2 linked regions of the Homo sapiens genome follow. The protein of the gene in region 1 purifies or fractionates together with the protein of each later gene. This does not show direct contact. Each region holds a gene or a part of one and is shown on either strand. Other genes may lie near its edges. The genes, in order: BTN3A2 and TMEM245.

What was found.
Region 2: the proteins of BTN3A2 (region 1) and TMEM245 purify together in Homo sapiens (affinity purification with mass spectrometry; one large-scale study listed by BioGRID and IntAct). This does not show direct contact.

Annotation. Positions count from the first base shown.
Region 1 is NC_000006.12:26,371,697-26,375,508, forward strand, and holds part of BTN3A2 (butyrophilin subfamily 3 member A2 isoform a precursor), read left to right. Parts: intron 1-1,185; coding exon of another isoform or gene 1,186-1,200; coding exon 1,201-1,401; intron 1,402-1,579; coding exon 1,580-1,600; intron 1,601-1,690; coding exon 1,691-1,717; intron 1,718-2,630; coding exon 2,631-2,671; 3' UTR 2,672-2,677; intron 2,678-3,074; 3' UTR 3,075-3,102; intron 3,103-3,812. UniProt on the Homo sapiens protein: Plays a role in T-cell responses in the adaptive immune response. Inhibits the release of IFNG from activated T-cells.
Region 2 is NC_000009.12:109,117,051-109,121,456, forward strand, and holds the start of TMEM245 (transmembrane protein 245), read right to left. Parts: upstream 2,898-4,406; 5' UTR 2,864-2,897; coding exon 2,285-2,863; intron 1-2,284.

The sequences.
Region 1 (3,812 bases):
TAGACAAAGTCTCACTCTATTGCCCAGGCTTGAGTGCAGTGGTGCAATCTCAGCTCGCTGCAGCCTCTGCCTCCCAGGTTCAAGTGATCCTCCTGCCTCAATCTCCCAAGTAGCTGAGATTACAAGCATGTGCCACCACACCCAGCTAATTTTTGTATTTTTAGTAGAGACAAGGTTTTACCATGTTGGCCAGGCTGGTCTCAAACTCCTGACCTCAAGTGATCCACCCGCCTCAGCCTCCTAAAGTGCTGGGATTACAGGCGTGAGCCACTGCAACCGGCCTGTAAAAGGTTTCTTATAGCACTGATTACTATTGCACAAGGTTAGAAACTGTGCAGATGTTCACTGCCAGGGAACTTCCATACAAGGGAATACTGCACAGTTTGTAAAAGGAAAAAGAAGCAATTCTCTCTATACTAATATGGAAAGATCTCCAAGATACACTTTACACAGAAAAAGCAAGATGCAGAGGGACGTGTATAGAATGCTATTTTTAGTTTAAACAAGAGGAAAAATAAGAATATATTTTAATTTACTTTTTTTTAGTTCTCAATTGGGTTAGTTTACATTTTTAAACTTCAACAAGCAATTTTGTAACACTTACTGTACATCAGGCACTTTATAAGTATTAATTCAATTCTTCTAACCTCAGGAAATAGGTATTATCATTACCCTCATTTTACATTAGTAGATTAGGCCACTACAAACAGAGAGGTTATGTAAGTAGTCCAACATCACACTGCTAGTCACATGGGGGAGCCAGCATTGAAACCCATACCCTCTGACTCCACAGGTTATGTTCCTAAGCATCATATTAAGTGGACTAAGAAGTTAATACATGGAGGGAGGGAGGACAGGGTGAATGAGAGAGTTGCGTGACTTTATGTGTATGTAGTTTTGAACGATGTAAATGTGTTACCTATTGAAAAAATATTTAGAAAAAATGTGTATGACTTTGCTCAAGTTACTTTCCATGTGAGAGGCAGACATCTCAAGATAAGTAATAGTAGTAGCTTGTAGTGAGGGTTTACCAAAGTCTTATCTATAGTCCTCTGAGACTTTAGGGAGAGAATCCTTATTTAACCTCATGAGATAGATTCCCCACCCCCGACCTGAGCTGAGCAGCTAAAGCTTGGGGTGCTGCAGGCTGGGGAGGCTGAGCGCACCAGCGCCCATGACCTACAGCTCTCCCCTTCGCAGACCCCTTCTTCAGGAGCGCCCAGCCCTGGATCGCAGCCCTGGCAGGGACCCTGCCTATCTTGCTGCTGCTTCTCGCCGGAGCCAGTTACTTCTTGTGGAGACAACAGAAGGAAATAACTGCTCTGTCCAGTGAGATAGAAAGTGAGCAAGAGATGAAAGAAATGGGATATGCTGCAACAGAGCGGGAAATAAGCCTAAGAGGTATCCAACGCAAGCAGAGAATCTAAGCTCTTGGCTTGCATGCCCCAGCCTGAAAACCTCACCTCTCTCCCCTACCCTGGCACTGCATCATGTTTAAGGTTTATTTCCCGAAACACCAACCTCACCCATAACAGTTCATCTTTTTTTTTTTTTTTTTTTTTTTTTGGTTATTTTCCAGAGAGCCTCCAGGAGGAACTCAGTAAGTTACCATTCCCCCAGAGATCCAGACATGTCTTCCTATCCTCGCTTTGAGCACCTTGATGACTCTTCCCTGTTCATTCCATTGCAGAGAGGAAAAAAATCCAGTACTTGACTCGTGAGTGGCTTTGACATTTTCTCTGAATTCAAATCTGTTACTCTCTCTCTGCTTCATTATTTTCCAGCCCATAAGTCATAGCCCAGGGTTGAAAAGTGGTCTTGGATCCCTTTACCCAGAAAAAGAAAACAAGTGTGGCTCTTTGGAGAAACCACCCAGTGCTTTTTCTCTCTAGAAAAAAAAAAAAAAAAAAAAGAGGTCTTCAATCTCTTTGTACTAGGGGCTACAGACCCTTAAGCTCTAAAAAGCACTGAGGAATATCCAGGGGTACACTTCAAAAGGAAGAGGGAAGAGAAGGATGAGGTGCATTTTCTATGGCAGGAAACTTACTTGTTGTTTCCCATAATCTAGAGGCTGTTGAAAGGAAAACAAGAATGGAAGATTTAAGAAATAAGAAAATCAGAAAAGAGAGAGGGAGGGAGAAAAGTGTGTCTAATAAAGAGGAGTAGCTACAGTGGCTCAGTTGGTACAGATAGATCATAACTGCTTTCAAAAACTAGTCCCTGAAATTGCTCATTAAATTTCCCAAATTCTTTTTAGAGCAAGGTACGAAATGATACAGATTGAGAAGGATGAATCTTGTACTCCTAGGCATACACATATAGACATGGTGACACCTATGCCCAGGTACACATTCAAAACAGATGAGCTGGACCCCATTGGGAAGGAACTCTCACAGTGCCTGCCCTGCCACTAGCGTTCAACCGATGTTCCCAGACTTGATATTAAGAAGAGGTGAAGAAAGAATTGTACCTGAAGATGGAGACCATGGGGAAGGGTGGGATGGTAAAAAAAAAAAAAAAAAAAAAAAAAAAAAAAAAAAAAAAGACTAGATGGATGCAAAAAGAAGGGGAAGGGGCCAACACAGAAAAGGCAGAGTTCTGGTGACACCTCTACCTTTCTTTCATTGTAGGTGGAGAGGAGTCTTCGTCCGATACCAATAAGTCAGCCTGATGCTCTGTAAGTTTGCTGGGTCACATGCCCTGAATATTTCAACTTTTTCTCCACTGTGACCCGTGGATGTTCTCAGCTGGATTAATTAGATCTAATCTAAAGACTCAATTTCTGTGTGGTGGGGGTTCACCTCCGCTTTTCTGGAGCCTCTGAGAAACTCCTGATCCTGCACACCCCCTTGTAAAGCCTGGCCATGCATCCTGCACCCCCCATGACACAGGGAGCCAAGCCTGACATTTTTGAGAAGGTGCCACCTCTGATCCATCAGAGCTGTAGAGGAGGGAAGCTGGACCCTGGAAGAGACTCTAAAGAAAAGGAGAGAAAACATGTAGTGAGAGGAGAATGGAGTGGGAAAAGTACAAAAATACTGACCTTTTTCTTATCTGTGTCTCCTTCCTTTCAGAATGGAAAAATGGCCCTCTTCAAGCCTGGTGAGTAAATCACTGCATGTTCCCTGGACCAACAACCTGAGGGACTATATTCCTTTTTCCTTTTTTCTTCTCCAACTCTTGTGATTTGGAGCAGAAAAGTTCCCTTGACTTCCTTCGTGGGTAGGAAGACGCATAAAGGGTGGAGGTGAAGGGAAGGAGACACACACTGAGTAATACTGCAGGGAGAGTGAGGATGGAAATGCCAAGGAGAGGAGGTGATGCCTGCCCAAAGAACTTTGTCCTTCCCAGGCTTCTCATGCCACCTACTGCCTGTATCTCCTCAAAGGATTTAATGCTTCCAAGCTTTGGCCTCCACATTTTTAGATGATGATTGCAATCTGTTTTTCATGGGGGTTGAGGTGAAGACTGAAGGAATAATGAACATGCTTGGCAGAAACCTAGCAAGAAATAGATGGTGAGCTCAAACTGGGTAGTTGGACAAGGTTTCCAGAAAGAAGGGTTAAGGGAAAGCAACAAGGAAAAGTGCAGTGCCCCCATGGTTCCCAACAGTGGGGAGCTGTCTCCACCCCTAGCCTGGGAGGGCTAAAAAGGGGAGGCAATTACTGGAACCCAGAGAAAGAGGTAGCTTAACGAGGGAGCTTCCTGAGAAGAGTCCTCGGGCCTTGTTAGAGCACCACCAGCTGCTGCTGGCAGGGAGGAAGCAGGAAATTAAACGGTGTGTATCTCCTTTCTTTCTCCTTCTAATCTTC
Region 2 (4,406 bases), on another chromosome or scaffold:
TAACCCTCTCTCTTTTTCCTTGCTCCCAACACTTGAGCCAAACAGCTGAATTTCAAGGTTTTTTTGGTTTTTTTTTGAGACGGAATTTCACGCTTGTCACCCAGAATGGAGTGCAGTGGTGCAATCTTGGCTCACTCCAACCTCTGCCTCCCGGGTTCAAGTGATTCTTCTGCCTCAGCCTCCCAAATAGTTGGGATTACAGGTGCCCACCACCACACCCAGCTAATTTTTTTTTTTTTGTATTTTTGGTAGAGACGGGGTTTCACCATGTTGGCCAGGCTGGTCTTGAACTCCTAACCTCAGGTGATCCACCCGCCTCGACCTCCCAAAGTGCTGGGATTACAGGCGTGAGCCACCGCGCCCGGCCAATTTCAAGCTTTTAAAAAATCATTAATTAGTTTGACCTTCTTTCTCCCACTCCCAGGTCTAATCAGTGTTGGCCCCTACTTCTCTTCCACTCATCCACAACCCACAAATGAAATACAAAGATGAGGGTTTATCTTCAGTAAAAAGATACTCAAAGGTATACGCCGAGCTGTGGATGTTTCTTTACAAGTGCTCAACTCTTTCCACTGAGTATCTGAGAGAGACTGGTAGAAATGCCTCATAATCATGCCAAATTACTTAGGTATTCAACTTCTTACTCTAGCATGAAAATATACTATTTACATGTGGCAGGCCTTTCTTTTCTACTTTCCTATAGTTTGATGGATATGCTCCTTGAGCAGTATCAACAGTCAAAAATGTTAGCAGAATCTATAAATGTGTCTTTGACAAAACTGAATTTCTTCAGGAAAATAACCAAGCTTATTTTTCTTAGAACATAGTGTTCTGCCTTCTAGCTAAGAAGCATTCGATCCACTTAACTGAATTGTGAAACTGCAAGATAAAGGATAAAGAGCGCTGAACTGGGCCTCCATAAAAGTGAACCACAGATTTGCTCATGAGCTGTGTGACTTTGGACCAATCACATTCTCTGGGCCTGTGGCCCACAACGGATGAGTCATGAACATTTATCTGTATGTCTGTCATCTCCATTAGAATATGTTCATATAGGATTATATGTACCGTGAAGACGGGACCTGTATCTTAGTCCTTTTTTAAACCTCTCACAAAGCCCAACACCTAACATATGCTCGATCAACTTTAAACATGAACCAAGAGGTGGTATTGAGGGAACAAGAGAAGAAGGGTGTTTTGGGTCATTCATCACTCTGCCAATAACCTCAGGCAAGCCAAAACACCGCTAGACAGATAAGGGGAATTAATATTTTCCAACTTAATGACGTCAAGGTACACTGAACTTTATTTCACTGACAAAAGAAGTGAATCAATTTGTAAATGGTACTGTTTATGAATCAATTGGCATTCTTACGCACTAAATCTCCACTTGTTTTTAACAGTCTCCAGTTAAATATGTGGATAATTAACTAGTCCACAATATAGTCTGAGTTAGGAATTGTGTCACTAGATTACCTTTGAAATCTTTCCAATTCTAAAGCTCCCTGGTTTTGTAAGAGTAAGCTCAGGTTAATCCAAGCATCACAAATCTACGTCTCTCCCCTTCACGCGGTCAGCTGCTTTACTCCAGGCGGGAGGAGGTGTGCTGTGGTACACCAGTCCCTGCACAACAAAAGCAGTTACCTAAAAGTAAAGCGTGGAGAGGAAGAAGCACAGGCAGCTCAGCACCCAGTGCCTTGCACAAATTATACAGGAATCACCTGAACTGAGAGGCAGCACCAGCCAGTGAAGCAAGCTTTGTTTTAGGACTTGTAAGAAATCTAAGACACCCAAACCCCTCTTTGTCCCTAAGTAGCCCTAGCCTGGTAAGAGGTCACCTTTCCTATCTGCAGGATGGCAAGTTGGCCTAGAATCTCTAAGGTCCCTTCCAGCTCTGACATTCAGATGCGCAGAACTGAGGGTGGCCGAAGCACCCCCGCCCTCTCCAACCAGAAGTAAAACCAAGCCCCACTGCCATGCTCTGAGGCCTCTCTCTGCAAAGCGAAATAACGATTCTCAATCCAGGGCACTGTCCCCCTAAGAGGGCCTATTAGGATTGAAACAAGGCGAAAAGCAGGGAGGCTGTTTCAAATCACGCCCGCCCCCTTTTTGGAAGAATGTCCGCCAAATTCCTGAGGTGTGAGAAGGAAAGCGGAGACGGACGGTCACTGCAGCACAGGTGTGGCCCCTCGTCGCCCCTGCACCGGGAGGAACAGCTGCAGGATTGCACCCCAGAGCGCCGGGACCACGGGCGGGGGACGGGGGCGGACTGCCGCTCACTCACCCACAGGCTGCTGAAGTAGTCCAGCCCGCGGCAGATGAGCGTGGCAGCGTGCACCAGCAGCACCTGCACGCCCAAGTAGCTGCCGAGGCAGTAGAGGCCGTACAGGAGCGGGCCGCCGGCGCCGAGCAGCAGGAGCAGGCGGCGGCGGCGCAGCGCCTGCTCGCCCAGGGCCTCGACGCCGTAGTCGACGAAGCAGAGCGGCAGGAGCAGCGCGGCCAGGACGATGGGCGTGTGCGCGCGGTGCAGGCGCTGCAGCCAGTGGCGGCCCAGGCGCGTCAGCGAGCTCTTGAAGGGGTGCAGAAAAGTGCCGCATAGCACGGCCCAGAGCAGCGGCCGCAGGAAGGCCTCCAGGATGAAGTAGACCAGCACCGCGGCGCCGCAGCACAGGCACACGAACAGCACGGCCCCGGTGTTGTAGAAGGCCTGCTTAATGGGCTTGTCGAAGCGCAGCGCCAGCGCCGCGGTCCGCGGGGTCTCCCCGCCACCGCCACTCGGCCCGACCGCGCGCGGGACCCGCGGCGCCGGCCCGGGAGAGCTCCGCAGGCTTGGCGCGTCCTTAGGGCCGCCGCCGTCGGCCATCGTTCCTCCGCCACAGCCGCCCCCGAGGGGCGGTAATGGGAGTCGGGCTAGAAACGCGGGCGGGAGGCAGGGCGGGAGGCGCGCGAGATTGTGGGAGTTGTAGTTCCCCGCTGGTTTACAGACCCACCAAGCGCTTGCAGGAAACTACAACTCCCGAAGGGGAAATGGGGAAAACGCCTCCGCCTCCTTGGTGTCCGCAAGGTCCTGCTAACAAGTTTGCAGGGTCTATATCTTCCTGGAGGGGGGGGGGGGGGGAAGCTCCTTTCACTCATTCGTTAATGTCAATTTCTCGCGAGGCGAGATCCCAAAAGGCGCCACATTCAGATATTAAAACCCAAGCTGCATACTAGAATACCGTGGGGGAGTACTTTTAAAGAACCAATGCCCCGATTCTGTTTTACTGATTTATTTAACAGATATTTTTAAAGTGTTTTCTTTGGTGTATCTGACAGGATTTTAAATAGAGATTACCATATAACAGGCCCTATTCTAAGTGGCTCACTCCTATTAACTCATTTAATCCTTAGAACAACCCTACAAAGAAGGTGTTATTATCCTCATTTTACCAACAGAAAAACTGAGACAGAGCCGTTAAGTACGCAGCCAGAGTCACACAGCTACCAAGTGGCACAGGCAAGATTCAAACTCAGGGATTCTGGCTCCAAAGGCTATACTTTTATCTACCATAGTATTTGGCCTGAGGAAAGAACTCTTGGCATTTTTCAAACGTTCCTCATAAGCCTGTAATTTGCAGCCGCTGTTGACAACTGTTTGTGCAGGTTTCGCTGTGGACGCAATCTAAACTCTTAAAAGAGTCGTAGATCAAAGTCTCAAACTGCCACTGTTTCTTTTTGAGACTTGATGTAATGTCAGTTAAGCCCCCAATCTCAAGTTTTCCTCTGTCACATGGCGATGATAATAATAATAGCTTTTGCTTTAGGGTTATTGTGTGGGGGAAGGGAAACTCTGGGGCGGTACAAGGTGCTTCTGTTCCCCTATTGGAAAAGTGCTGGGATCCAAGCCTGCTACCCATAAAATATCCCAATCAACATTTTGATTTAAAAAAAAAAAGAAAGCCTTGACTGAGTACTCAACATGTGATTGCTTCAAACCTTGCAAGTTGTCCCTTTCCTGTTTCAATAGTATTCCTATTAATTTCTACATAATTTTTGTTTCCCTTCTAAAGCAGACAAGACAGGTAACATAATCCACAGTTTGCAGATAAAGAAACTATTGCTTGATAGATTTGGAGACAAAGGGATTTAGTAAAGGAAGTAAAGGAAAAAGTAATTCCCTATCCATCTCGATTGTAAGTTTTAGGTCTCAGTATTTCAGATGGCCTTTGGAGTTTTATAACCAAAACGCAGGTTTAGTCGCTCACCACTTGCAGATTCCAATTAACAAGAGCAAGGTCTGGTATAAAGAAAGTGATGTATTCCAAAGCTAGCTTAGGGGAAGAAGTACAGGTTTCCTCCCTAAGGCTACTGCTTCAATTGTGGAGCAGAAAGCAGGCACTTTTAAAGCGAAGGAAGCAAGCAGTTGT